Homo sapiens: one gene and its partners. The protein of the gene in region 2 interacts with the protein of the main gene of each other region in a pairwise test. Each region holds a gene or a part of one and is shown on either strand. Other genes may lie near its edges.

What was found.
Region 1: the proteins of MAD1L1 (region 2) and CIMIP4 interact in binary tests that used the Homo sapiens proteins (3 or more experiments, as listed by UniProt).
Region 3: the proteins of MAD1L1 (region 2) and TSHZ3 interact in binary tests that used the Homo sapiens proteins (3 or more experiments, as listed by UniProt).
Region 4: the proteins of MAD1L1 (region 2) and LENG1 interact in binary tests that used the Homo sapiens proteins (3 or more experiments, as listed by UniProt).

The regions. Positions count from the first base shown.
Region 1 is NC_000022.11:37,004,841-37,012,682, reverse strand, and holds the start of CIMIP4 (ciliary microtubule inner protein 4), read left to right. Parts: upstream 1-4,831; 5' UTR 4,832-4,954; intron 4,955-5,026; exon of another isoform or gene 5,027-5,211; intron 5,212-7,842. Other genes in the region: TST (thiosulfate sulfurtransferase), read left to right, coding at 1,358-1,656.
Region 2 is NC_000007.14:2,229,930-2,237,008, forward strand, and holds the start of MAD1L1 (mitotic spindle assembly checkpoint protein MAD1), read right to left. Parts: upstream 3,017-7,079; 5' UTR 2,943-3,016; intron 836-2,942; exon of another isoform or gene 799-835; 5' UTR 620-798; intron 215-619; 5' UTR 205-214; coding exon 55-204; intron 1-54. Other genes in the region: MRM2 (rRNA methyltransferase 2, mitochondrial), read right to left, coding at 5,193-5,635. UniProt on the Homo sapiens protein: Component of the spindle-assembly checkpoint that prevents the onset of anaphase until all chromosomes are properly aligned at the metaphase plate.
Region 3 is NC_000019.10:31,346,432-31,353,610, reverse strand, and holds the start of TSHZ3 (teashirt homolog 3), read left to right. Parts: upstream 1-4,174; 5' UTR 4,175-4,391; coding exon 4,392-4,431; intron 4,432-4,693; exon of another isoform or gene 4,694-7,179. UniProt on the Homo sapiens protein: Transcriptional regulator involved in developmental processes. Functions in association with APBB1, SET and HDAC factors as a transcriptional repressor, that inhibits the expression of CASP4.
Region 4 is NC_000019.10:54,156,713-54,163,941, forward strand, and holds the start of LENG1 (leukocyte receptor cluster member 1), read right to left. Parts: upstream 3,010-7,229; 5' UTR 2,984-3,009; coding exon 2,852-2,983; intron 1,750-2,851; coding exon 1,570-1,749; intron 314-1,569; coding exon 51-313; intron 1-50. Other genes in the region: voltage-gated chloride channel TMC4, read right to left, coding at 3,594-3,662, 3,755-3,833, 4,166-4,321, 4,418-4,548, 5,390-5,573, 5,961-6,058, 6,321-6,447, 7,012-7,175.

The DNA of each region.
Region 1 (7,842 bases), on a different chromosome or scaffold from region 2:
GTATATGCCTTGGCCACACTAGTCAGATCCTTCCCCTCCCACTCCTGCCACCCTGCTCCTGCCCTGTCCCATAATCCAGGTTGAATGGGGGTGGGGATTTGGGGAGCAAGGAGGGCTCAAAGAGATGGAGATAGGCCTGTGTCAGGCCAAAGTGCAGGTTGGGCACTGGGAGTGGGGCCAACCATAGAGCCCCCACCCCTGCCAGGGTGTGGGCTGCTCGAGGAAGACAGGAGTGGCCTGGGGCATGTGTGAGATTGGCCTGTGGCCTCACCCTGTGGGTGGCACCAGCTCTGGCCATGGCTTTCCCCTTTGCCCCAATTCCTGGCTCTTCTGAAGCCAGATTTGGCCGAGGGCCCTCACTGGGTACTGAGACAGTTCCAGAAAGGACTCTAGAGCCAGCCGAGTCCCTCCACTCTGCTTCCATCCAAGTTCTTGGAGGGGACCAAAAAGGCCCACACTGTCCCTATTCTCCCCCTACCCCCTCCATGGGTGGTGAAGTGGCTGGGGGCGCAGCATGGCAGGGTGGGTGGGCCAGCCTCCAAAGCCAGCGCTTTCCTTGTGCCACCCGCTTCGTGCAGCAGCCAATACACAGTGGATACTCTCATTTCCATTTTTCCTATGGAGAAACTGAGGCTCAGAGAGCTGACATAACTTGCTCCAGTGGGATTTGACCTCACATCTGACACCAGGTCACTTGCTCTTTCTGCAACTGTGTGCTTAACAGAAAACCAGAGGCCCCGATGTAATCCTGGGTCTGCCTTCATCTTTCTGTGTGGCCTTAGGTGAGCCGTGTTGTTTTGCCAAGACTCAGCGGATTCATCTGTAAAATGGGGACATATCTGATTAGTTATGTGGTTATCTGTTTAGCATCTGCCTTTCTTGTTAGACTGGAATCTCCCAGAGGGCCTGGCTGTGTCTCTGCCTTTCACCGCTGTGTTCTCAGCACATAGCATTTGCAATAAGTTGTCCCATTTGCTCTTCTCAACATGGCTGTGAGATAGGTATGTACCACTGAGCCCATTTTACAGATGAGAAAACTGAGGTTCAGAGAAGTGAAATGATTTGCCCAAGGTAAAGGTTAGTGGAGCTGAGACTCATGCCGCTGTCTTCTCAAGCAGGTGTGATTTTGGGCATCTCTACTTCAAGACAGGTGTTAGGAGAGGAGTTGCAGGCATCTTAAGTCATGAGAAATGATAATAGGTGGGGCTGGGAATAAATTGAGCTCCAAGCAGAGCAAAGATGTTATTTTTATTTGCAAAGCTATCTATCCTTCCAGCTATAGCTGATGGAATCCTCCAGGCCCCATTAGTCCCCACCCCTCATACATCCCCTAAGCTGTGTCCTCTGCCCTGCCCAGGACTGGACTCGGGCCATATCCGTGGTGCCGTCAACATGCCTTTCATGGACTTCCTGACTGAGGATGGCTTCGAGAAGGGCCCAGAAGAGCTCCGTGCTCTGTTCCAGACCAAGAAGGTGGATCTCTCGCAGCCTCTCATTGCCACGTGCCGCAAGGGAGTCACCGCCTGCCACGTGGCCTTGGCTGCCTACCTCTGCGGCAAGCCTGATGTGGCCGTGTACGATGGCTCCTGGTCCGAGTGGTTTCGCCGGGCCCCCCCAGAGAGCCGTGTGTCCCAGGGAAAGTCTGAGAAGGCCTGAGCCGTGACCTCTTCTGCTTACTGTAACTGCGGCCGGTTTAGTGACCCCATGACTTACAGCCGGTTCTTACCTCTTAGGTGAAGGAGATGACATGTTTTTAGAATTGCTGTGCAAGGCTCACCCTCTCTCTGTCAACACTGGAATAAACTTTGCCTTTTCTGAGTAGTGTGTTTGCCTGCCTCTCTCTGGGCTCCATCCTTGCCCCCAAACTTCCATCTCTTTCAAACTCCGGAGACTCCACCAAGGACAGAGACCACCATAGCCCCTCTGGCTGGGGAAGCCATACCGAGGACACCACTTTCACCCAGTTTTGGCAGAAACAGCCTCCTGCTGTCCCATGTCAGGTGGACTCTGTCCCAGAGCATGCTGGGTCCTACCAGGAAGACAGGTGGGAAGGGAACCAGAAAGCCAGAGAGCTGAAGCCCCAGCTGCTGTAGCCCCAGCCTCCTGGGTAGGGGCGGAGGGACAGCTGGCTTTCCCAATATGTCCATAGAGGTGTCACACAGACCCAGGGCCTCTCAGAAGAGGCCATGCTCAGGAGCAGGTGAAAGGAAGGTGGCCTCTGTCTCGAGCACCTTTTCTGGCTCAGAGTAAGACCCCCTGGGGAGCAGTGGAGGGAGGGGCTGGAGAAAGAGCTTTGGCCCTGGGAGAAGGTCCAGGCTCTGGCAGGTGAATCAGGAAGCCACAGTAGAAGAAAGCAACCTGATAGCTTGGCCCCATGTGGCTGGATTTCAAGTTTCCCAGAAACAGCCTCTCTTAGACCTCCTTTGGGGTTGCAAGAAGAATTCCGGGCCCCACCTACTGGGGACTACCGGCTCCCCACTATCCAGCCTTCCCAGTGAAGACAGGATCCTGGAGGGCCGGAGACCAAGTCTGTCCTTGGCTTGGCATTGGGGCAAATAGGTGCTCAGGAGATGCTGAGGAGGTTGGTTTTGGGGCTGGCAGGTTGGGTGATGGGGCTGAATGCTGAGGCCGGTGGGACCTGTAGTGGTGGGACTGGTAGTCTGGAGGGTTGACCCCTCTCACTTCCATGCCACTAACAAAACAGTCCTCTTCCCAGCTCACATGTGGCTCAGATCCTACTGTGGGAAGAAGAAGCAAATATACACAGTATGTCAGATGGCAATAAGGTGCAATGGTAGAAAAGGTTGGAAAATAGGAGTAGGGAGTGTGGGGTGGGCTGGGATGCTTTTTAAGAAAAGGTGGTCTGGGAAGGTGAGCAGAGTCTTGAAGGAGGTGAAGAGGCAAGCCATGTAGGCATGTGGGGGAAGGAAGTTGCAGGAGAGGAGAGGGAACAGCCCGTGCAAAGGCCCCGAGGAGGGACTGTGCTTGGTGTGCCCAAAAAACAGCAGAGCCTGGCATGGCAGGGACCCAGGGAGCACTTGGGAAAGTGAGAGGAGCAGAGGTCAGAGAAAAATGGTGGACAGGTTGGGTAGGGCCTTGCAGATAAATGGGAGGATGTCAGCTTTTACTGTGGTTGAGCTGGAAGGTTTTGTTTAGAGGGGTGACATATGATCTAATATAGGTCTTAACAGGATTGCTGGGCTGTTGAGTGAGAAGACTGTCAGAGGATATGGTGGACTCCAGGGTGGTCCCCATATTATCTGCCCCCTCGTGTTCATGCCCCGTGTGACCCTCTCCCTTTCACTGCGGGTGGGACCCGTGACTTGCTTTTAACCAACAGCCTACGGCAAAGGTGATGGATGCCACTTCTGTGACTATGGTACACAACATTGTAATGCCCCATCTTGCAAGGGGACTCCCTCTTTGCTGGCTTTGATGAAGTCAGTGTCATGTTGGTGTTGGGGGGCCCACATAGCAAGGAACTGAGGATGGCCTCTGGCTGACAGCCAGAGAGAGCCTGAGACCCTCAGTCTAACAGACTGCAAGGAACTGAATCCTCCCACAGCCACATGAGCTTGGAAGCATATTCTTCCCTAGTGGAACCTCAGATGAGACTGCAGCCCTGGCCAATACTTGGATTGTAGCCTGCTAAGACCCCAATGCAGAGAACTCAGCTAAGCCATGAGTAGACACCCGACCCAAAGAAACTGTGAGATAACAGTTGTATGTTAAGCTTCGAAGTTTATGGCAAGATTGTCGTGCAGCAATAGATAATACTTAGGCAAGAGATGAGGGTGGCTTGGACCAGGGAGTAGGGGGAGTTGTGGAGGTGGACGAAGGCATCCAAATCTAGTGTACTTCGAAGGACTTGCTGATGGGTTGCTTGCGGAAGTAGCTTAGAGTTTTGTGATGTCTCTCTCTGTGCAAGGCAATGTGCTACATTTTGCAAAAAATTGTTTTATTCGCCCATCACCCTTATCCTTAGTGTTGGGTGATATCTGTTTCACATGTGAAGGAAGTTCAGCTAAAGGACTTGGCCAGTCTCTTATCTAATAAGTGACAGGCCCAGATTCTGGGGACTCCAAGTTTAACCACAGCACTCTCTGTTTCCTGGGGAAATCCTGAAAGGCTGGGCTTGCAGGAGGCGTTCACTATACCCACTCTTTGTCCAGGCTGAGCAACAGCCAGACAGGAATGGGCCAGTGCTGGCACCAATGACTTCTGCCTCCTTCTTCTCTGCAGAAAAGAAGTCACTTAATTTTGTTGATCTCCTTCTGTAGCCCTTGTTGTTTAGGAATAGGAGAGAGGACCCTTCCTTTAGTTTTACTCCCAGGTCCCTGATCCCTGGGTGTCCAAATCAGACAGCTCCAGATGCATCTTTCTCCTTCCCCATTGACCTCGACCTACATTTATGCTGTTATACACATCCATGCCTTTAATATTCTCATCCCTTCAAAACTGTTAAGTTCCTAGGCATCCTTCAAGATCCAACTCAAATGGCTCTTTCATAAGTCCTTCCTCCTTTTTCCTACACAGAGCTAGTTCTTCTCCCTACTTAGTGCTTTGAGCTCCCAAGAACATCTTTTGCACTTGGTAGCATCTGAGCCCCCTGTGCCTGGCACACCTGGCATGTAGTGGGGGCTCAACTGACATTCTAGAGTGGATGAGAGAGTGAACAATAATTGAAGCCCCTCCTGCCTTTTCCTGGCCTCAATCCTGGCTTTCTCCTGGCCTCTTTTCCCTACGGGTGGGCCTATCAGCCCTCTGAGGTAACAGAGCCCTGTGTATAGTGATCACCATGGCAACTCCAATGAACATCTTGGGGAGGGCCACTTCCCAGCAACCATCCATTGGTCTTCACCAGTAGTTCTGCAGTGGGGATCTGCACTTCTGGGCTTCAGCACACATCAGTGTGGTTCACGTGTTTCCTGCTGTTATGAAAGAGATTGGAGAGGTGAGGCAGAGACTTATGAAGGGCCAGGGTTCTTCCAGGACATGGGGTTTCATCTTCCTTCTCCCCATTCAGAGTTGCTTGTGAGTGAAGACTGCCTAGACTGGACTTACCTTCCCGCCCTCTTTGACCAAAGTCTCTTGGGATCTCTCTCTCTGGGTCAGAAACTGGAAGTGAGTCCACACTTCCATTGTAGCCCGTCCAGACTGCTGTGGACTGGCAGTGCACTGGGACGTACAGAGCTGCCGTGGGCACGTCAGGTTGGTGGCTGGGGATAGGAGGAGAAAGAAAACTTGGAGCTAACTTGAACTTCACCTAGCTTGAAGATGTGCAATTTAATTTTAGCCCCACCTGGTGAAGTCCTGTGTCTTTTCGGAGCCTCATTTTCTCCATCTGTGAAAGAAGATAAATTAGTAGTGTCTCCGAACACCTTACTGGGTATTTGTGAAGACCAGACTAATTTACCAGATGTGAGAATGCTTGACATGGACTTGTGTTAGTTATCTCTTGCTGCACAACAAATCACCCCAAAACTTAGTGGGCTTAAGACAACATTTACTATCTCACAGTTTCTGTGAGTTGGGAATACCGGTGGAGTGTTGGTGATTTTTCTGTCCCAGGGTCTCTCACAGGCTGCAATCAAGGTGTTGCTTGGGTCTCTAGTCTCATCTCAAAGCTCGACCAGAGAAGGAACCCATTCACATGGCAGGATCCAGCTACTCTGGAGCTGTTGGCAAGAGGCCACTCTGAGTTCCTTGCCCTGTGGACCTCTCCATAGGGCATCTCACAACAGGGAAACTGGCTTCTGTCAGAGAAGATGAGCTGAGGAGAGCTGCAGAGAGTGTGTGAAAAAGACAGAAGTTGTAGTCTCTTATAAGTTCATCATGGATGCAACATCCCTCATTTTTGCCACATTCCATTCATCACTATGTCCAGTCCACACCAAAGGGGAGAGAATTATACCAAGAAACAGGGATCATTGGGAGCCATGTCAACTGCCTGCCACTCTCTGCCCTCTGGCCCCCAATAATGTACATCCCTTCCACATGCAAAATATAGTCATCCCCTCCTAAGATCTTTAAAATTCTCATCCTATTAAAGCATCAGTTTAAAAGCTAGAATCTGGTCATATAAATCAGCTCCAGGTGTGGCTGAGGCTCCTCCAGTGTCGTTCCTTAAGTACAGCTTCTCAGATTCAATTCTTCCCCATCATAGATCTGTGAAACTAAGTAATTTGCCCTGAACACACCTAACATACAGTGATGTGATAGGCATAGGATAAGAACTAGTGACATTCCTATTCAAAATTGAGGAAAATGGAGACATGGAGTCAATGTTCCATAGCGGTTTTGAAATCCAGCCACACAAATGTTGGACATTCCTTGATTAGGTTTCAAGGCCTGGGGATAATTCTCCATGGCTCTCAGCTCTGCCTTCTGGACTCTTGCATCCACTCTCTGACTTGTCTTTTTTATTTTTATTTTTTGTTCAATGGTATCTTTTCATTTTGTACTGTCTCTATCCCTTTTACCCGAAGTTGCCAACATTTTGCTGATGTTATTTTCTCAACAGTAAAACTTACAGGGGTTCACTCCATTGAACAAAAGTCACACCCCTTTTTAACTGAGGCTCCTGTTGAGGAGCCTTAAGCTTCCTAGAGGTCCTATGGTTCTGTTAAGAGGATATATCAGGCATCTCTTTAATCTCTTTAAAGCACCCTTTGTTTGACAGAGTAATACCCTCATCCTTTGATCTTTCTGAAGTTTTAACAACAGGTCGCACAGTCACACTCCTGGGCACACTTTCCAGACAGCCTTCTGAAGCTATTTCTTAATTTTAGCATCTTTTGGGATCTGGAAAGGATGAGACTTCAGAACCATTAAGTACTGGCATCTTTTTGTTTAACAGTCCCTTCTTCAATTCATCACCTTCCTCTCACATTTCACTACAAGCAGCAAGAAGAAAGTAAGAGGCAACTACCATCTTTTCTTTGGAACTCTTTAGCTAAATCATTCAGTTCATTAGTCACATAACTGCAGATGACAGTGTCACTGTTTCTGCCACTACATAACAAGGGTCTTTCTTCCACTATTTCTAGTAATATATTCCTCACTTCCATTTGGGCCCTCACTCACTGCATCTTCCAACTCCAGATTTCTGCTTAAAAAAAAAAAAAAACTGTTTAAGGTGATTTAGGCTTTTTCTATCATGCTTCTCAAAATCCTTATAGACTCTGACCACCGCTTGGTTCCAAGTTCAGTCCCAAATTTTTAAGTATTTGTTATAGCAACACCCCACTGTTAGTACCAAAATATGTATTAGCTATGTATTGCTGCGTAACAAATGACCATAAAGCTTAGAAGTTTGACACTGTATGTTTAAAACAGTACAAATTTATGATCTCAGAACTTATAGGAGTCAGGATGCTCACTTGGCTGGGTCCTCTGGCCCAGGGTATCCCACAGGCTGTAATGAAAGTGTCATCCAGGCTGTGTTCTCATATCAAGGCTCAACTGGGGAAGGATCCACTTTCAAGCTCATTCAGGTGTCAGGATTCATTCAGTTCTTCAAAGACTGTTGGACTCAGGGCTTCTATTCTTTATGAGCTTTTGGCCAGAAGTCACCCTCAGTTTCTTGCTCCATGGGCTGCTCCACAGGGCAGCTCAAAACACGGCATTTGCTGTCATCAGAATGAGCAAACCAAGGAGAACCAGGGAAAGAGAGCAAACAAAACCGAAGTCACAGGCCGGGCACGGTGGCTCACACCTGTAATCCCAGCACTTTGGGAGGCTGAGGCGGGTGGATCACTTGAGGCCAGGAGTTAGAGATCAGCCTGGCCAACATGGTGAAACCCTGTCTCTACTAAAAATACAAAAATTAGCCAGATGTGG
Region 2 (7,079 bases):
CCCGGGCCCAGGGTCTCCCCAGAGCAGACTCCCACCCAGGCACATGCCACTCACCTGCATGCTCTGCTGGTACTGCATCTGCAGAGAACCTGGGGCCGAGGTAGAAATATCCAGTCCAGAGCCTCCCTCCACACGCTGAGAGATGAAGTTGTTCAAAGATCTCAGGGTGGATAAAACCATGGTGTTTTCCCCCAGGTCTTCCATGGTTGCTTTCCTTCCGGGGACAGACAAAGGACTGGTCAGGGGCAGCCTTTCCACGTGCCATCAGCCGTGCAGTCAGCAGAGCCTCTGGACAGCCCCACTCCCCTAACGCACATTGGAGCTCATAATACACCCATGCCTGTAACCACATTCTTCAATGGCAACTGGGAGCCATGCTGCCAATTTACCAGACAAAAAATGGAAGCAAGGAAGCATGCCACCAAATCCCCACCAGCAAGCCACCAATTGAGTCTCAGTTGCACATGGACAGATGGACAGCTGGCGCCCGGGAGGCGGGGCTCAGCACTCAGGTGGCACGTCCCCCAACTGCACTGTAAGAGGGTTCTCCAGAGACACAGAGCCAACAGGACACAGAGACAGACACAAGAGAAGGGCTTTATTGGGGAAACTGACTCACGCGATTACAGAGACTGTCCCACAACAGGCCGTCTGCAAGTTGGAGCCCTGGAAGCCTGGCAGTGTGACACAGTCCAAGTCTGAAGGCCTCAGAGCCAGGGGTCCGATGGTGTAATTCTCAGTTCGAGGGGCTGCTGGGACAAGTCCTGGAGACCAAAGGCCGGCGAGCTTGGAGTGCTGCTGTTGAGGAGAGGAGAGGAAGAGTGTATCCCAGCTCCTGCAGGCAGATGGACACATTCGCCTTTTCTCTGTTTTTGTCCTCTCCAGGCCCCCAGGCTCTTAGATACTGCCCCTGACTCTGAGGATGGATCTTCAGCACCTGGTCCACTCAGACTCCCAAGCTCATCTCCTCTGGAAACACCCTCAACAGGCACACCCAAAACCAAAAATGATGCTTTCCCAGGTTTCTAGGAATTCCTGAATCCAGTCAGTTGATGCCTGAAACTACCTACCAGGAGCACTCACAGCAAAGTCTGGCCTCTTGCCCAGGCAGGGTGGTTCACGCCTCTAATCCCAGCACTTCGGGAGGCGGAGGCAGGTCCGGAGTTCAAGACCAGAATGGCCAACATGGCAAAACCCCACCTCTAATAAAATACAAAAACTAGCCGGGTGTGGTGGTGTGCGCCTGTAATCCCAGCTACTCAGGAGGCTGTGGCACAAGAATCGCTTGAAACTGGGAGGCAGAGGTTGCAGTGACCTGAGACCGCACCACTGCACTCCAGCCTGGGTAACGGGGTGAGACAGTGTCTCAAAATAAATAAATGAATGAATAAATAAATAAATAAACATAAGCCAGGCACTGTTGCTCATGCCTGTAATCCCAGCACTTTGTGAGGCCAAGATGGGCAGATCACCACAGGTCAGGAGTTCGAGACCAGCCTGGCCAACATGGTGAAACCCCATCTCTACTAAAGCCAGATGTGGTGGCGTGCACCTGTAATCCCAGCTACTCCGGAGGCTGGGACAGGAGATTTTCTTGAACCCAGGAGATGGAGGTTGCAGTGAACTGAGATCGCGCCACTGCATTCCAGCCTGGGTGCCAGAGCAAGACTCCGTTTCAAAAAATAATAATAATTAATTAAAAAAAAAATCTGGCCTCTGGGAATCAGAAACGAGGCATGCAACAGTGACAGTAAAGATGATGATCATCACAGCTGTGCTCATTTTCATTGTTTATTTCTAGTGACATTAATAAGTACTACTACTATTTTCAACTAGGTATCAGAAAGAAAGGTATCTGACATTTCCGAGCACCGAGACTTCTTGAACTTCAGTTTCCTCATCTGTAAACTCATGACAGTGAAATCTACTTGCAAAGTTGTGGGGAACGGGGCCAATATCCCTCAAGTCTTCCACCGCTAGATGATGGGAATACGGCTGCAGGTTGACCAGCACTATATTTGTAAGCTCAGTCTCAACAGGGTGGTGAATTAGGTCTTTTTACACAGATTCTAGAGATGATGAAACCGAAGCTTCAAAAAGTTACAGAACGGAGATTGGAACTTGGGTCTGTCTGGCTTTGGAAGGCTGAAGACAAACCGCAGTAAAGAACTTTGCACCCCCAACACCGGCGCTTACTATGGGCTCATGGCAGGCCGGCCCACCAGCCACAACTAGGGAACAGCCAAGCGCGTTTAAAAGCCAAAGGTAGAACTTCTGCAGCTGCACAGTTTCTGAGTTTCCATTTAACAAGAACCTTGGCCTGGTGCAAGCAGAGGCCTGAGCTCCCCAGGCTGCCAGCCCCGCAGAGGCAGGCCCGCCTGGAAGGAGGCTCCACAGCCCAATTCCTCCATTGCCCAAACGAGATCAGGGTGGCCCTTGCCATCCCCGAGGGGAAACCGGGCCCACACGCCCCCTTCCTGAGAGCGGACCGGCGCGAGCCACCAGGATGCCAAGAGCCCCTGCAGCCCCGACTTCTCCACCAGGCGCCAGCTCAGGCCCCTTCCTCGGCGCGCCGGCACCCTAGCCCGGGGACCCACACGGTAGGCAGCGGGACCCCGGGGCTGGGACCACGAGCACGCGCCCCTCGGCCGCCCGCCCTGGCACAAGGGACGGCTGCGGAGACCCAGGCGAGGGGCCCGCTGTCCCCAGCACAGCCCAAAGGGGGAGTGGGGACAGGGGAGTGGGGAGAGGAGGGGAGAGCACAGAGAGGAGAGCGCGCCCATGGGAGACGGGGCGGGCGCGGGGTCCTGAGGCACGGGGTCTGGGTCGTTGTGCCCCACCCTGGCGAGCACACCCGGTCCGGGCCCTCGGCCCCTCCCTTGCCATTCCCGGGACCCCCGGGACCCCGGGACCCCGCCGCCCGCGCGAGCCGGGCCGCTTACCTCAGCCGCTCGCAGCCAGCTTGCCGCCGCCGCTCGGATCTCCCTCCGCTCCGCCGGCGCCCATTTATCGCGACACTTGCGCCTGCGCTCTCGCGAGACCTGCGTGGCAATCGGGCCGTAAAGAACCGAGTCTGCGCACCGGCTGATCCTGGGGACTCCGCGTCCGCACCCGGAGCCGCCACCCCTGGGAGACTCCGCACGGAAAGGACTCGGAACCGAAGGCTGAGCCAAGGCGCAGTCGGGGGCCCCCCGGCTTTGCGCAGGACGCGCTTCCACTAAGGCTTTCGCCTCGCGCCGTAATGTGTGGAATAGCCGCGCCCACGGCAGCCTCCTCGGACAAACTTGCACCGTTGACTCTTCCCAAAATTTTGCTACTCAGTATCAGCTTGAATCAATCCGTTATTTTGCTTTTTTCTGGGCCCACTAGAAATGCAATTTATGCTACTAGGCTACCTTCCCAGTGCTCTGCAAGCCAGGGCACAGCATCCAATGGGGTGAGGTCAGGCCCCACCATTATTATGGTAACCTTTGTCTATCCTTCAAATTGGAGCCTTCCTGAGAAGAGTGTGCCTTACTCGTTTCCATATTCTCTTCCTCTCCTCCTCCCGTCTCTGCCCAGCCCCTGGCTTCCCTCTAAGAAGATGCTGTTCCTAAGGGTCTGCAATGAATTTTCCTTCTTTCAGAGAAAGACTTCCAAGTTGTGTGCCCCGGGAATGAAATGGAATAAGAGAACGAGGTGGAGTAGGGCAAGAGTCCCTGGACTTAACAACCTGACTGCAACCAGAAATAAAATGAAAAGTCAAAACATCTGGCGGCCGGGCGCGGTGGCTCACGCCTGTAATCCCAGCACTTTGGGAGGCCGAGGCAGGCGGATCACGAGGTCAGGAGATCGAGACCATCCTGGCTAACACGGTGAAACCCCGTCTCTACTGAAAATACAAAAAAAAAAAAAAAAAATAGCCGGGCGTGGTGATGGGCGCCTGTAGTCCCAGCTACTCGGGAGGCTGAGGCCGAATGGCGTGAACCCGGGAAGTGGAGCTTACAGTGAGCCAAGATCACTTCACTGCACTCCAGCCTGGGTGACAGAGTGAGATTCTGTTTCTCAAAGAAAAAAAAAAATCAAAACATCTGACCCGCAGTTTCCTTCGGGGAGCTGGACAGAGCCCCAGATTCCTGATGGAGATTCCTGGGTTTCCAGACTTCCCCCACTGGTCCTTGGAATTTAATCATAGTCAACAAACTCTTCTTGAGGGATGAGTACACCTCCAGGAAATGGCTTTGAGGAAGCCAGTTTAAAAAAAACAAAACTTCAAAGCATGAAAGTACCTTAAAATAATGCAATCTCTATTATTTTATTAAATATAAAGCTGCGTCAAGTTCCTAGATGAGTAAAAGAAAATAAACACACCACATCACTGCTTGCTTTGGCAATTACATTTATGTTCTTGGGAGCCCAGACACTGATATAAATTTCCAGCAAAAACCAAAGCAGACCCACTGCCTGGATAAATTCAGACCATACGTCTTCCCTAATTGTTCCGGGAACTTTTGCTGCTTGAAGAATGCGTGAATTGCTATATTGTTCACCAGAAAGACAGAAGTTAATCCCCAGATGGAAATTTCAGATTTTTCTTTTGGTTTGCTTTTTGGTTTTTCATTTTTGTAGACATGGGGGGTGTTGCTATGTTGCCCAGGTTGGTCTTGAACTCCTGACTTCAAGCAATCCCCCAGCCTCAGCCTTCTAAAGCCCTGGGTTTACAGGCATGAGTGGCCTCACCCAGCCCCCAGATTTTCTACTTTAAACAGCCACACTAAGAACTGGAAATCTGTGCGTGGTGCTCTCAGAGCAGGGGTGGAAAGCCTGTTTGTGTGTGACAGTTTAACAGTCTATAAGATGAAGTCCCGTCAAGGCACACATGGGCACACCCATCCCTGCCTCGGCGGATTCCTTCTGATCCTTCCCACAGTCTGTTTTTCTCCATCCTTCCATCCTCACCTCTTTCTCTTGATAACTTTCTCTTCCCAAATCACAATATAGCGGACTTTTTCATTTTCCATGGCCCCTGAACTTAGTTTTGTCATCTCTTTTTGGTTAAAAAGAGAGAGAGAGAAAGAGAGAGAGAGACTCCCCACTTGTCCTGCTCCATCTCCAAAATCAGCTCAAATCTCCCAGGAACTCTTCAGGAGCTCAGGCTACGTTTCTAGCTTAAAAGGAGCTAATGACCATTATGAAAATGGCACAAGAAATCCTCACTGCTTCACAGTGCCCTTCCTTCCGTGGTACTGTGTGGCCAAGAAGTACACTTCTGATGACTCTTTCCTGCTGGCTTCAGGTTTGATGATCCTTACATTCTGGAATTCCTCTGTCAGTCTCCTCTGTAACCGACGGCTTTGACTTCCAGCCCAGGTTTTACAAAGGAATGTCCCCCCAGGTTGCAGGATGTCTGGGGTCACGCTGAGAAGGGTCAGGCACAGGCTGATGAGCCTGTCATGATCGAGGTCCCGGAACCCTGTGGCATTGGGCGCCATGTCGCTCAGAATCACATCTGCTCTCCTGCCAGGAAGCACCTCGAGGATTCTCTGTGAGGTTCTCGGGTCAGTCACGTCAGCAGGGCACAGAAAAGTTGCTCCTTCCAGGGGGAATATGTGAAGAAGATCTACCCCAAGCACGAAGCCAACAGGAGAGCTGGGATCTATGGAAGAAATGGTGAATGTGTTATTTATTTACACCCTGAATCTTTTTACAAAAATACAGTACATGCAACAAAGTGATGAAATAAAAATAAAATGTCAAGACCAAGGCAAAGAGCTAATGTGCAAATAGGTAAACACAGGCCTTCTCTATCTATACATCCTATAAAGACACATGGTGGAGATGGCGGGCCTTAACATCTGAGAAGCTGAGGCCCAGACAGGAAGTGACTGTCCTAGAGTCATCCTCAGCCATGGGCAGACCTGTGCCAGGCATCAGGACTTCTGATTCCAAATCTGGTATCATTTCACTACCCAAGGCTCACTCTCTGTGAAAGGGTTCTTATCTCTGAGTGCTCTTTTTGATAAACTAAAATAGAAAATAGGCCAGTCCCAGTGGCTCACACCTATAATCCCAGCACTTTGGGAGGCTGACACGGGTGGATCACCTGAGGTCAGGACTTCGAGACCAGCCTGGCCAACATGGGGAAACCCCATCTCTACTAAAAATACAAAAATTAGGCAGGCGTGGTGGCACGTGCCTGTAATCCCAGCTACTCGGGAGGCTAAGATAGGAGAATCGCTTGAACCCGGGAAGCGGAGGTTGCAGTGAGCCAAGATCGCACCACTGCACTCCAGCCTTGGCGACAGAGCGAGACTCGATCTCAAAAGAAAAAGAAAAAGAAAAAGAAAATAATAAACTAGTACATAAAGTGCCTCTGGATTAAATCAAGAAATCCATTCTCCAGCTTAATCCAATTGCTTTCAATGTAGAAACTACTGGAAACAAGTCAAGAGATGAGGAAAATGAACAGATATAAAATAACGTACAAAAACTGATATCGGCTAGGTGTGGTGGCTTACACCTAAAATCCCAGCACTTTGGGAGGCTGAAGCAAGAGGATTACTTGAGCCCAGGAGTTCTAGTCCAGCCTGGGCAACATAGCAAGATCCTGTCTCTACAAAAAAATATAAAAATTAGCTGTAGTCTCAGCTACTCAGGAGACCCAGCTAAAATGAGGCGTGAGGCGTCCCATTTTCCTGGGGTGAAGACTGAGGGGTTTCGCCTTTGAAAAATGAGGTAATCTTCAAAATACCTGGACTTCCAATGTTTACACTAGGAATGAAACACGGTCCCTTTCTCTCCCCCTACCGTTGGAACAGCCTTTCTGTTAAGCAGACTGAACAAGAAAATCTGTGACTGTACCCTTAGCTTATCAACTCTGACAATTTCTCAACAGAACTACGGCCCTCCTCAGTGGAGGGGACTGTTGGGGAGATGGGGGCGTTGGGCTTGTGAAGAGGGGGCTTTGAATGTAGGTACAGAGTGAGAAGAGGGGGAGGCAGATGCTGAGATCAGTTATAGGCAACAAGTCTTGTTTTACGTAAGGTGACACAAAGGCATCTTTTTAGTTTTAGCAAACTGGTGTTACTCAAATATCAGCA
Region 3 (7,179 bases), on a different chromosome or scaffold from region 2:
TTGGGTGAGCCAGCTGGCTGCCATGCGACTGCCAGTTTCTCCAATGGACATTTGCACCTCGGTGTTTCGGTGAGTCGTCCCACCGCCTTTGCTCATTTTTCCTCCTTCTATTTTTAGGGTTTTTTTTTTAATGTTCCCGGAAAGGCGGCACCTCCCAAAGGTGGGGACATCTCACTGGCCTAGGGGCTTACTTTTCAGAGTGACTCAGGCGGGTAGAAGTTACTAGGGCTGGCAGGGCCAGAGCCTGTTGTTTTTCAAAGATAATCTGCAACTCTGAAGAGTGGGGTGAAAAGATTTCTACACAGTGTACATTCTACAGAATTCTAGTTTCTCCGCGGGCGCAGACTTTTCCGCCCTCTAGTCTAGCGTGAAAACAGTTCGACCACTGGATGTGGGCGGCGAAGCCCGCACCCTAGAGCGCGGTGTCTCCCTGCAGGAGGGAGCTCCAGCCCGCGCCGCCGCGGCCGCTTCTGGCCTCCTCGGGAACCGAACCGAGCATACCTCAGTGCTCTCCTAGAAGCGGCTCCTTTTCCCCTTCTTACTCGCGAATGGCGAAATGAATAGCCGCGCGGGATTTTACCCGTTTGTGTAGTGGACTCTGAGGGGGCACCAGGTACCGAGACGGAAATCTTTGCGGTAAGAATAAAGTCAGGTAAAACGCCTGGTACAGCCGCCCTGCAGATGTCCCAAGAGTAGGTCCCCCGTACACTCTTCCCATTAAGTTCTTAGGGGGAGGACAGGGAAGGCCCTTTGGTCTGGCTGGATTGATCAGGGAGGTATGCGCATATGTTTGCCCTCTGGACATTTGGGGAGGGGTTATGGGGGAGTTGAAGGCAAGAGGCAAAATCAGGTAGAACAAACAACTACAGCCAAGAGCGGCACTCTCGGGGAATGGGCACACGGAACTCCGCGCAAACCTCTGGCTTCTCAAACCTACAGCCCTGCCCTTTCTCCCTTTGTAAACAAAATGTGAATTACAGACTTACTGCCATCCAGACACTATTTCTCCCTAAATCTGGCCCTTAGTTCTCACTGGGATCCACGTTTTCCTCCGCTCTCCAGCTCCTCTCCATCAGGCCATGTCACACACAGCAGCCAGGCGGGGCCAAAAAGTTTTAGCGCGAGACCTCCTGGCTAAAACCTGGCCAGCGACCTCGACAACACATCCTAGGCCCAGGTGAAGGGGGTTTAAGCCCTTGCATCCAGGTAGCTTCCGGTTCTGCAGTGTGCTTGGTGCGGATTTGGGAAGTCTCCCTTCCTTCTCTCCTAGCCACACCCAGCCCACACAAGGGCAGAGAAAACCTGGTGGAAAATAATGACTCGGGCGACACTGCCCCTCTTCCTTCAATTCCATCCCTACAATGGTCTGCAAAACTATTCATGTTTGGGGGTCCAGATATTAAGTGGGGGTGGGTACATGTGGCTGAAAGAACACAGATTAGGCCTTCAGGCTGTGCCAAGCCAGGCCGGGGGCCTTTTTGCGTGTCCCGACATGGCAGTATGGTTGCTGCGTGCACTCCGCATAGCCCGTGTTGTGCGTGGCGGGCTGTCGCTGCAATGTGCAGCCCATTGACACTGATGGATGCGCCAATGGTTGGACGGACAGATGTTAGGGCGGATCGCACAGCGCTCGGCGCCTGAGCGGGGGAGGGCCAGGCAGCGACCCAGCGGCGGCGGCCGGCTACGCGGAGACCCGAGTTCAGGCCGCGGCCCGCAGTGGGAGGGGGCCGAAGGAACAGAGGTTTGCAAGAACAGCGAGGGGATGGAAAGGAGGAGAAAAGCGCGACCAGGGAGAACTACACGCTTCCGTGTGCGGCGCCCCGCGCTGTGCACACGCCGCACCGGGCGCGCCTAAGTGGGAGCTTCGAAGGTGAGCTGGGAGCCGGCGGGAGCTGACCCCGTGCGGCGCAACCCGCCTCCAGGCGACAGGAGCTCAGCGCGGCCACCAGAATGGTGAGGCCGCCGGCGGTGTCGGCCAACTCACCGTTTCCTCGCTTGCAAGAAGCGTTTCACGCTCCACGGCCGCGTCTCCCCGGCCTGGAGGAGTAGCGGTTCTGGCCTCTGCGGCCGCGGGCACCCAACGCGCACGGCGCCTCAGCCCCCGAGTCCGCCAGCCCGAGAGCCCCGCCGCAGCCCGCCTCGGACTCCCTGCCCCGCCTGGGGTCCGTACCCCACAACTCCGAGCGCTCCTGCGCGCGGAAAGGCGCTGGAGGCGGCTTTATAGCCGGGGAGGCCAGCGGCGGCGCATCTGCATCCTGGGAGACGTCTGGACCCAGCCCAAGCCCGCAGGCTGGGCGAGCGGAGACTTTTGATCTTACCGTGTGGGTGAGATCACTGTCTCCCGGTCTAAAAGAAAAGAAAGCATGCTGTGAACTTTTGAAACAAACTTGCAAAAACAGTCGTAGAGAAAAAATAAAAAGGACACAGGGCAGAAAAAGAGGGAGAAAGAGACTAAAAAAAGAAAAAGATAAGGGGAGGGGGAAGGAAGGAAGGAGAGAAGGAGGAAGAAGTCTGGGGTTTGCTGCTCCAGGAGCGCTCAGGCAGCCGGTGCTGGAGCGCGGGGCGCCCGCCCTCGCCGGGACTGTCGGCCTCGGGGCCTGCGAGAGCGCCAGAGCCCCAGCCGGCGCGCCCGGGCGCAGGGCCGCCTCGGGGATAGTGGGCCCGGAGGCCGCCCCCGCGCTCCAGCAGCCGCCGCCCGGCAGCGCCCGGAGCCGGCCCCGGCGCGGCCGCCCCATTCCCGGCCTGAGAGCTGGCCCAGGGAGACGCAATCGAGCCCGCAGCGCATCGATGCGCCGCCGCCCGCGCCGCTCGGGCTCCGGCTCCCGCTCAGCCGCCGCCGCCCGGGGGTCGCCCGCATGAGCTCCGGCCCACCCGCGCCCTCACCGCCGCCCGTAAGTGAGCCCGCGTCGCCCCGCCGCCCACGCCGCCCAGCCAGCTCCTTCTTGCCGCGGCCAGTCGGCCGGGCCGGCCCGGAGCCTCAGCGACCCCGATCACCAATCAATAATCAATCCCTCTAGTCCAGCAGCCCCGGCAGGCCGGGCGCGGGACACGGCGCGGCGGCCCCCTAGGCTCTCGGGGGGAGCCCCTGGCGGGGGATGGGCAGGGGAGCCCGGTTTCCTTCTCCCGCCCCCGTCCCGCCCTAGGATCGGCCCGCGCCGTGGATGGGGGGCGCGGCCCGGCTCCCGGGGGCGAGGGGCGGGGTGGAGGGACCCTGATCATCCCAAAGTCAGGAGAGGAAACTTGAAGGAACCCCCTCCCACACCGACCCCCGGGACGGGCCCAGGAAAGTTTGTCCGGGGAAAAAAAATTGGGGGAAGTGGCTACGGCGGGTCCTGGGGGAGGAGCTGGGTGGCGCGGGGTCTGAGGGCTGCCCCCACCCGCCCCGGCCCGCGCCCGCCTCCTCCCTGGAGGGGGCCTGCCCGTGGGCTCTGGCTTCCCCGGGGGACGCCAGCCCCGGCCCGGGGACCACGCTGGGGGCTCCGGAGTCGGCGGGTGGAGAGGAGTGCGAGCCGGGTGGGGCAGCTGGGGGGTGGCTGGGGACGAACGCTGGGTGGGAATAGGGGTGGGGGGTAACGAGCGCCCCGGGACGGGCTCGGCGGGGCTGGCGCCGCGCCCCCGCGTGTGCGCACGGGGCGGAGGCGGAGGGGCGGCACCCCTTTCGCTGGCGGGGCGGGGGTCCCACGCGGGCCTGGGGCCGGGGGCGGGGGCGCGGCGCCCCCGCGGGCGGGCGATTGACACGATCATCTCCTTTTCCTTTAAGCTTGCCTGTTGCCGACGCCGCCGCTCCAGCCGCGCCACGGGCAGAAGACTGGACCGCCGAGCCCCGGGCCGCGGCGGCGGCTGCGCGTCCCCCCGGATGCCGTGACCCCCGGCCTAGGGGCGGGGGCCGGGGCAGTACCGGTCCGGGCCGCTCCCGCGCTCCTCCTCCCACCGCTCTGCCCGCCCTCTCCCCGCCCCCCAGCCCCGAACCCCGCGCACCTCGTCTGGGGACGGGGCGGGGGGGGGCAGGGCCGCCGCTCCTCCCCGCCCCCTCCTCCTCTGGCCTCTGGAGCGATTTGTCAAACTTCCCATTCCGCCGGCAGCGCGGTCCTCCTCCTCCTCCTCCACCTCCTCCTCCTCTGCCTCCTCCTCCCCCCCGTGCTCCTCCCTCCCCGAGCCTCCCTCGCCCGCCCTCCTTCTTCCCTCCGCACGTTCGGGGTTCGCGGCGGAGCGCGGCGCGGGGGGGACGCGGAGAGCCTGGGCGCAGCAGCATCCTGCGGGCGGCCGCTCTCCGGGGGGGAGGCTGAGAGCAGGCCCGCCTCGCCCCCCCGCGGGCCCGCCGCCCCCTCCCTCCCTGTCCTCAGCCCGGCAGCGGCGGCGGCGGCGGCAGTGGCAGTCGCCGGAGAAGCATCATGCCGAGGAGGAAGCAGCAGGCGCCCCGGCGCGCAGCAGGTACGAGCCGCTTCCCCTTCCTTCTGCTCTCCTCCTCCTCTTCCTCCGCTCGCCCCGCGCCTCCAGCGGGCGCGACCCCGCTCCTCGCCCCGCTCTTCTGCCCGCACTGAGTAACTCCGGGCGCCGCTCTCCTGTTTGGGTGCGTGCGCCCGCCTCGGGTACCGGGCGCCCCCCGGACGCCCCGCCGCGCTCTGCCCTCTTCCCTCTCGCACCCATTTGGGGAGCCGCTCGCGGAGCGCGCTGAGCCGCGCCAGGTCCCTACCTCCTCAGCTCTCCGGCTGCAGAGGGAATGGGAAGCAACCCCGGCCTGGCTCTTTCTGTGGGTGGCGGGCGGGGTCACCTGAGTTCCCCGGGACATCTTCCGCGTCCTCCGAGCGGCCGACCGCCGGGGGACTGCCTGGTGTCCGCCGAGCCAGGGAGCGCGAACGAGTGAGCGAGCCGGTCCCCTCGGCCACCTTAGTACTAACACGATTGATTCCTCATTTCTTGGGCCCAAACTGGGCACAGCGGTGGAACCCGGAGCGCACAGGGTCTGGGTATTGTCAGATGACTGTCAAGTCCATGTTAGATGCTGGCGTTTCCTTCTCCCCTGTTTGTGTTTCCTCGCCCCCACCCCCTCCTTGTACTGCTGCTCCCACCCTCATCTCCGCATAGCACTTAGTTCTGGGACGTGTCTGAGTACTTTTTTGTTCCTCCTTTTTTTTTTTTTTTCTTCTTCTTTAACCGGGAGTGTCAACTCCTGTTAAGACTGAGCCGATTTTTTTCTTTTCTTTTCTGGAAAACGCATCATTGAAAACAAAACAAAAACCACACACATAACATTATTTTGCAATAATGTCGGTTGGGGGCATGTTGCCTGGAAGAAGGGTTTCTGGCCCGTTGCCATCCTTGATTTGATGACTGATTGATCGCCCGTCATGCTGCTGCCTTTGATCTATTCATTCCCAATAAACATCAATAAATCACTTGCAATAGTGAGGCCAAGCTCTGTGACGTCAGGAGGGCCCTGTCAGTGCAACTTTGGGATTTGGGGCGGATTGCCGAGAGGACCACATATGGACGTGATGTATTTTGATATGAGTAACACTCAGATGTGCAGAGGTTCAGATGCTCCCTGAAGGGGAGGGTTAAGTGGGGCTTCCTTTCTTTTCTTTTCTCTTCCTTTCTTTTACTTCTCTTTTGATGTTAAGAGGGAAGGGCAGAGAGTAGGGTCAGGGCATTGGCTGGTGCCCATCTTGGAGGAAGGCGTTGTAGCCATGGTGCCCTGAGTGCCCATAATTTCCATCATGCCAGCCGGCACTGCCAGGGGACCTCACACGTTGGCTGCACTCTGCACTCCAGACCCCTTACACGGGGTCACAGAGAAGGAATGATAATTCTCTCTTCTCCCAGAAATGTACTTGCCTGCCAGTGTCTTCAGAAAATCTCAGAAGAAAACAGGGTTGGTTTGGGGCTTAGGATGCAGGTTTTGCTCTCTGTCCTCGGTGTTGCCCAAATTTAGAAAGTTTGAAAATTCCAGGAGTGATTGTAGGGAGCTTGCCGCCTCCCTAGTTAACCTCCTGGAGCTTGCTTCTTGCCCGTCCCACCTTCTACTTTAAATTCCAGGCTCAAGCAATGAGCTTATCTACCCAAAATAAACTCTGAAACTTTGGAGGAATCCTTCACAAAGTTGAGTAGTAGGAATGTCTTGGGCTTCTTCCAGTCTTTGAAATTTTTTTTTTCTTTCCTTTTTGGATACACATTTTAAGGTATGTGTGTGCCTCCATCCAATGAACCATATGTGATTACATCTTTACATTTGGTTCAGAACTCTCTCTCTAGTTCATCTCTTCGGTTGCACCCTGCCAATCTGAGACTCGTATTTGATAGCTTCCTCCAGAAAAATATCAGAGGAGGAGGGAACCTGCTGTTGGCTTTATTTATTTATTTATTTATTTATTTTTAGAGCAACCTGTTCACTAACCTTTTCACACTTTTTTTTTTTTTTTAAAGAAAGCCAGCCAGGAAATCTCAGGTCAGTTAAGAAAAATTCATTATATAAAAAACTTGACTGCAGGACTAATAGGAGATGGAAGAATGGTTTTGCTCTATCAAAATGACCCGTCAAAACGACTTTGTTTCATATTTGATTTAATTGTCTCTCTCCTGACAGGCACATTCATCAATAGCTTAATGGTCAATCAGAAGCTGGCAGCATGAGTGCTTTATTTCTTTCCCATACTCGGGTTTTGGATTTACTTTATCAGAATGCCTCTGCCTAATGGACATGTGGAGGAGGGGGTGGAGGCGGACTGAAGAGCTACTTATTTAAGAAGAGTGGAGAGAAAAAAAAAAAACTCCACATTTAGGCTGGTGATAAGTATGCACAGAGGTTTTTTTTTTGGGGGTGGTTTGTTTGTTTGGATGGACCAGAAACTTCCCATTTTTTTCTCCTCTTTTTTAGTTTTCCCAGCTGCAAGTTATAAGGTTCATGCCAGCTTTTGTGGCATACTGGGAGTGATGACAAATTGATTGCTTTGTACTGATAGAGAGAGAGAGTGGGGAAAAGAAAGATGTCTGCTGATTGGTAACTGGAAATCCAGTCCCCAGCAACCTTGAGAATACTCGAGAATTTTTTTCCCCTCCAAACTGAAAGGTCCGCTCAGCCATAAAAAAAGAAAAGTTGTTTTGCCAGCTTCATTAGTGTTCACCTAATTAGCTGTAAACCTGATGGATTCCTGACAGCTTTAATGATTGGAGATGACAAGC
Region 4 (7,229 bases), on a different chromosome or scaffold from region 2:
CCAAGCCCTGAAGGTCTGGGCCCTGGTCTGCCGAGGTGGGGTCTTCTTACTCCTTGGGTCGCTGCTTCTCAGACCCCTCCTTTTCCTTTCTGCTGCGACTGCCTTCATCACCGCCGTGCTGTCTCTTCTTCCCCAGATGCTTCTGCATCTCCCGCAGAGGGTCCAGACGGCTCTTGATCTTCTCATCTGGGGCTGGGCCGGGCGGGGGGCCCCCTCGCCCTGGGGGTAGCTGGTACCAAGGGGGTTGAGTCTGTGCCTCCGCTGCACTCTGGCCCAGGTATGTCAGGATGCCCAGAGCTTTCTCTTGCCTCTCCTGAGGGGGCCAGGAAATACAAGAGATGTGATATAATCTTTCAAGGTGTCAGGTGTGTCTCCCTGACACAGGTATCTAAGCGAACAGGTATCTAAGGCTTGTTATGAACCAGTTGGACCAGGTGCTGGGGATGGAAGACAAACAGAGGCAAAGCTCCCCCTGGGGGGACAGTAGCAGGTACAGTAACAGCAGGGGAAGGAGGGGACAAGTGGAGCCACTTGAGTGTTCAGAGGCAGGCATCTTTGCAGAGAGACTTGAAGAGAAGCCTGAAGGGATCAAGCAAAGCAGAGGAGCGATGGGTGGGGTCAGCAAGTCCAGAGACAGCAGATAAATGACAAGAGCTGATGTACCTCTTTTTTTTGAGATGGAGTCTCGCTCTGTTGCCCAGACTCGAGTGCAGTGGCACGATCTCGGCTCACTGCAACCTCTGCTTCCCAGGTTCAAGCAATCCTCCTACCTCAGCCCCCCGAGTAGCTGGGATTACAGGCACACACCACCATGCCCAGCTAATTTTTGTATTTTTAGTAGAGACGGGGTTTTGCCATGTTTGGCCAGGCTGGTCTTGAACTTCTGACCTCAGGTGATCCACCCACGTTGGCCTCCCAAAGTGCTGGGATTACAGGCGTGAGCCACCATGCACAGCCACTGATGTACCTTTTACACTTGATCTTAGCCAAAAAGCAAGAGGCGATTGATTCACTTTTTGTTTGATTGTTTTGAGATGGGGTCTCGCTCTGTCACCCAGGCTGGAGTGCAGTGGCGCAATCTCGGCTTACTGCAGCTTCCACCTCCTGGGTCAAGCGATTCTCCTGCTTCAGCCTCCCTGGGATTACAGGCGCGCACCACCATGCCCGGCTAATTTTTTTTGTATTTTTAGAGATACCATGTTGACCAGGCTGGTCTTGAACTCCTGACCTCAGGTGATCCACCCGCCTCAGCCTCCCAAGGTGGTGGGATTACAGGCGTGAGCCACAGCCGGCTGATTTAAATTTTTAAAAGCCCATCAGGTTTGAGACTCCTCCAGTTTGGAGAACTGAGCGGTTTGCCCAGCAGCTGGGGACCTCTAGCATCTACCTCCAACCCCTGTGGGCGCCCAGACGGCAATAGCCAACGCTTTTTGAGTGTCATGCCTTGGTATGGTCCTAAATTCTGTGTGTTCACTCTTGTTTGACCTTGGTCACAACCAATGGCTAAAGTGCCCCCTCCCTCCAACTCGATTCATGGCCCCTCTGATGAAGTGGGTGAGGCCAGCTTACTTTCTCCTGTCGCTTTTCTTCCTTGTACTCTTTATTGCCTCTGATCACTCCTTTCCCTTCCTCCAGCAGCTCCCGAAACAGGTCCACAGGGCCAGAACCTGGGGCTCCCGCCTCTGCTGCTTCAAGCTCAGGCAGTGAGTTCTGATGTCTGGCTTTCTTCCGTAGGAATTCTGTACGGGCCTGGGGAGAAAGTTATAGGCAGGACATTCAGAACCTAGAGGTAATTCAAGAACTGTGAGTCTGGTGCCCACCACAGAAAATGGCAGTCCAGGGTGCTGGGGTTATGAGAAAGGGAGCACTAGGCGCCTAAAAGAGGCACCTGTCCTAGCTGGGGGTGAGGGTAGGCAGATGAGGCAACGCCTGGGTTTTGTAAACTCCCTTTCAAATAGTAAACCACGGGTCATCAAGGATGTATGGGAGGAGGTCCCTGGCCTAAACCAAAGGGGTTCCTAACCTCAAGTGAGACAATTAAAACAGCCATAAAGGTATGCATTAGGCCAGACGATCTGAATTCTAGCCATGGCTCCAAGTGACTACCCCAAGTCTGCTGAAGCCCTGTCCCCTGCCTTCAGGACGCGGATTTCAAACAGCGCTCAGCAGCCTACTGAGATTCTAAAAACCTAGACTACCTCCCACCCACGGCGGAGGATCAGACTAGCTAAGGAAATGAAAGTTGGGTGTACACCAAACAGATTTAAAGAGCCATACGGAAAGCCCGTGTTTGTGTGTATGTGTCTAGGGGGCGGTGCACGAAAGGGCTCGCCCGATGGCGTGGAGCCTGGCTGTCCGCCTCTCCTTAAAATGTGCCTTCCCCTCACTGAAGCCATCTCACTTCGTGCAACAGAGATGACAGTGCCCCTCTAAGAACGAACAGTGCTTATTGGGGATTCCGCAAGTCAGGTGCACGGCATGTAGTTAGCATACAGTAGATGCTCAATAAATAGGCTGTGCAGGCAAACTAAAAAGTGATCCGAATTTCCTTGAACTGTCCAAGGGTTCACGGATTCATTAAATGTTAAGCTTCTCTTTTGTGCTAGACACTGTTCCAGCCATGTGAAATACATCAGTGGGGGAAAAACTAAGACGAGGGCGAGATCAAGGAAGGTTTCGTGGAAGTGGGCACAAGGTTTGCGGGGCAACGTCCTCGAAAGTGGGATCGGCGCCTGGTCCCGAATTTCACACGGGGCACATTGAGCCTGCGCAACGCCTCCGCTTCCGGCCCCCAACCGCGGCGCCTGCGCGCTGGGCCCCGGAGCGCCGCCCTGCCGGCTTCCGAGCTTACCTCTTGCTGAGCCAGCAGCACCCTCCGCTCACGCTCCTTCTCCTCCTCCCGGGCCTGGGCCTCGTCACGCCGCACGCGGGCGACATTGTCCTTGTTCCGGACGTGCCAGCTCTTCTTGGGCAAGATATTCATGGCGTCGTAGCTGTCCAGGGACTGGCACGCCCGCCTCTTTGCACTTCCGATTGGCGAGAGGATGCCCCCCTTTTTCTTGTCCCTACTTCGACCGCGGATTGGTTCCGAATTAGTTGGTACGGCCCCCTGGCCTGTAGCGACAGGTGATTGGCTGAGACGCCCTTTATCACAGCGAATGCTAGGCGTTCGGCTCGTGGTATCCCCTAGCAACCGCCTCTTGTCACAGATCTGAACCAATCATAAGTTGGCCCGCCCCTGATGCTACCAGATGCGGCCGTCGATTGGCCGACATGACCGACAAGTCTCCTTGCGGAAGAGCGCTCTGCACCGACAAACATGCCCGTACATTTGATTGGCTCCTGCCCCGCTGTAGCCCTGCCCCCACCTTCAGGACGCAGATTTCAAAGCGCGCTCAGCAACCTCGGCTGTATTTATTGATACAAGGAAGATCACCCGAGAGTCAGGGACGTGGCGGCGAGGGGCCCTGGAAATCTCCAGATACCAAAGCTGGAAGGGCGTGGAGTCTTCTCCAGTTCTCCTAGTTTACAGATGTTGTGACCTAGGCTTACAATGGGCCTGGGGTCTGAAAGCGGGACGTGGGCTGCGGGGGTCAAAGAGCCGGTTTGGTGGAGGTCAGCGCCACAGCGCGCCGTGCCAGGAAGACTTTATTCTGCGCCTCCTGGGGCAAAGAGAGGTGGAGGTGAGACAATCCTCTTCCCCAACCCCTTTCCATGTTCCCCAGGGGCCCTCTCAGGGACCCGCCTGGCTCACCGTCTCTCTCTGACGTTTGAGCTCAGAGATGAGGCGTCCGTAGGAGTTAGCCAGAGCCACAGTGTACGCCATCAGGATGCTGAAGGAGACAGGAACGGAAGCCACTCCTGACACGCTCTTCCATTATATCCAAACGTCTGGCTCCTTCGAAGCCAGGGATGTGGACGCCTAAGCCCCTCCTCGTCTGGGCTCAAGGAGTTCAGTCTCCCAGCCCCTCCGCCTTCAGATCCAGGAGTCCTACGTCCCGCCCACCTCCTCCTTCGGACCCAGCAGTCCAGGAGCCTAGGCCTCCTCCCTCAGACTCAGTACGTTGCCTGCTCCCACGCCCAAGCCTCTCCTCTCTTGGACGCAGGTGGTGGCCCCCAGATCACACGCATTCAAACCCAGACCCAGAAGTCTGGGCCGTCTCACCTGGAGATCAGCAGAAGGGGCACAGCAAAAGCCTGGGTCCCCAGGAAGAAGAGGAAATTCTGGGTGGTCTCAGGGAGGCTGGAAATAGACTCAGGGATCTGGGCCCAGATGGACGACTGCCCCCGGAATGGACCACACAGCTTAGAAGGCGGGATCCTGAAGTCAAGACAGGCTGGGCTCACATAGTGCCAGGAGTCTGAACACTGAATGGGGAGAGAGGGAGGGAGAGAGGCGGGAGCCTCTCGCACTTACAGGAAGATGCTGTAAAGCAGGGGAACGCTGGAGATGGCCAGACCCAGGAGAAGGACCAAGGGGAAAAAGAAATTCGCCGCGGAGGCCCGGAAGGTGCGGGCAGCCGGGGAGCAGGTGGAGAAGAGGGTAAGCTGGTGGGGGAAGGCACGGAGAAAAGGGCTCTGAAACACAAGAGTCTGTGCCTCCATTTTTTTTTTTTTTTTTTTTTGAGACAGAGTCTCGCTCTGTCGCCCAGGCTTTTTTTTTTGAGACAGAGTCTCGCTCTGTCGCCCAGGCTGGAGTGCAGTGGCTCTCACTGCAGCCTCCCCTCCCGGGTTCAAGCTATTCTCGTGTCTCAGCCTCCCGAGTAGCTGGGATTACAGGTGTGCACCACCACTCCCGGCTAATTTGTTTTGCTGTTGTTGTTGTTTGTTTGTTTTCTCTTTTTGAGACGGAGTCTCGCTCTGTCGCCCAGGCTGGAGTGCAGTGGCACGATCTTGGCTCACTTCGACCTTCACCTCCCTGGTTCAAGCAATTCCCCTGCCTCAGCCTCCTGAGTAGCTGGGATTACAGGCGCCTGCCACTAAGCCCGGCTAATTTTTTTTGTATTTTTAGTAGAGACGGGGTTTTGCCATGTTAGCCAGGCTGGTCTCAAACTCCTGACCTCAGGTGATCCACCCGCCTTAGTCTCCCGAAGTGCTGGGATTACAGGCGTGAGCCACTGCACCCGGCCTACCTGCCTCTCCTTTTTTCCGAACCAGGAGTCTGAGCCCCTTCCTCATCTAGGACCCCGGAGTCTGAGTCCCCAGATCCTCAGACATATAAGTCAGAATGCCCTAGACCCCTCCTCTCAGATGCAGTAGTCTGTCCTCCAACCCCCTCCTCTCTCAGGACCGAGTAATCCAGGCCCCCAGGATCTTCCTTGCCCTTGACCCAGGAGTGCGGGCCCCAATACCTCCTGCCTCAGACCCAAGGGTCCCCCCTACCCCTTACCTTCTTCAGGTAGAAAAGCAGCAGGAACTTGACCGTGTTAAGCAGGGGCAGTAAAGGGCAGAAAAAACTCCCCACCCAGACCACCGTCTGCGCGTAGATGAGCCCCAGCACCTCGTCGGGCACCTGGAACTCTTGGGTCCCCGCCAGACGACCCAGCGCCCCAGGACAGAGGCCACAGAGGAGCCTGAAGGACGGGGCGGGGCCGGGCCGGAGTCAGGGGAGTGGCGGCCTGGAGTTTCCACGCCTCCACCGCCCCGCCCGCCAATAGGAAGCATGCGTATTGGTGGTGGGGGGGGGGGGGGCGGGACTTTCAGGACTCCACGTGGAGGGGGTGTGTCCAGAGGGCGGGTCCTGAGGACTAGAAGGGACCCAGATGTCGCCGCCGTCGGGGCCAGAGGGAAGTAACCCACTAAAACAAGGGCGGGGAGCGGGGAGATCTGCGGACCTAGGGCAAGCAAAGGGAGCAGGCAGAGGCGGGAATGGTAAAAAGGTGCGCGGTGAAAAGAACAGCGCGATGGGGCACGGCCTCGTCCTAGAGGGGCGGGGCCACAGCAAGGGGCGGGGCTCTCACTTTCTAGGAAACTGGATGAGCAGCGCGACTGCCAAGACAGTCAGCAGATCAAAGAGCAGAAGTTTGTACATTTCCTGGCCCAGGACAGTCTCCCAGCACTGAAGAAGGAAGAAATATATCAGAAAGAACTCGGGACCCGGGCACCTGGAGGCCCACGCGTCCGAGTCTCCACATCGCAAGCCTATGAGACCCTGTCAATACTTTCTCTGGGGGTCCTCGTTTTTCAAACTTTCATACCCTTGGGAGAGTGTTCCAGCACCCCAAGCTCCCCTCTCCGCCCAAACCAAGAGTCTGGACCCACCCAGCTCCATCTTTCCTTCAGGGACCCAAGAGTCCCACGCACACCCATGCCGTTCTCACCGGAAGTTGTTTGTAATTGTAGCCACAGGTTTTGCAGTCCTCAGCCTCGGAGTCGCCCCCACAAGTGATCTGATTCCAGAGAGAGAAGAGCAGGACCACCAGGGAGGCGAGGCGAAGAAACACGGTCCTGAAGGGGGGAAGGCAGAGAATGGGCCCTGACCCGGTACCCACCATGTGGCAGTTCCCTTCTCAGTGGAACGCGCCCGCATTCAACCCATCTCACAGATGAAGCTGAGGCCCAGTGACAGAATCAGGATTTCTTTCTTTCTTTCTTTCTTTTTTTTTTTTTTTTTTTTGAGACAGGGTCTCACTCTGTCACCCGGACTGGAGTGCAGTGGCGCGATCTCAGCTCACTGCAACCTCCACCTCCCAGGCTCGAGCCATTCTCCTGCCTCAGCCTCCCGAGTAGCTGGGACTACAGAAGCCACTACCGCCGGGCTAATATTCGTATTTTTACTACAGACGGGGTTTCATCATGTTTGTCAGGCTGGTCTCGAACTCCTGACCTCAGCCTCGGCCTCCCAAAGTGCTGGGATTACAGGTGTGAGCCACTGCACCTGGCCAACAGAGTCAGGATTTGAATCCCTGGATTCGGTATCAGCAGGATTTCCGTGTCTTACCTGTCAGCGCCAACATCCCTCTGACCGCCCCCACCCTTCATCATTCCCAGCCATCCCCGTGAGGCTGGAACCTGAGCAGGATAAAAACGATCTGGCGACTCCGAGTGTAGCCCTCCAGTGGAGCAATGAGCTTGAACACGGGCGGCAGCACAAAATTGACCCCAGCGATGAAGATGGACGGAAGGTAATTCACCCCAAGCTTCAGCAGTGGCAACTCCTGGACAAGGGGCATCTCCTGGGAGCGGGATGGACCATGAGTAGAGGCTTGGGGTCCTGGAGGAGCCAAGCT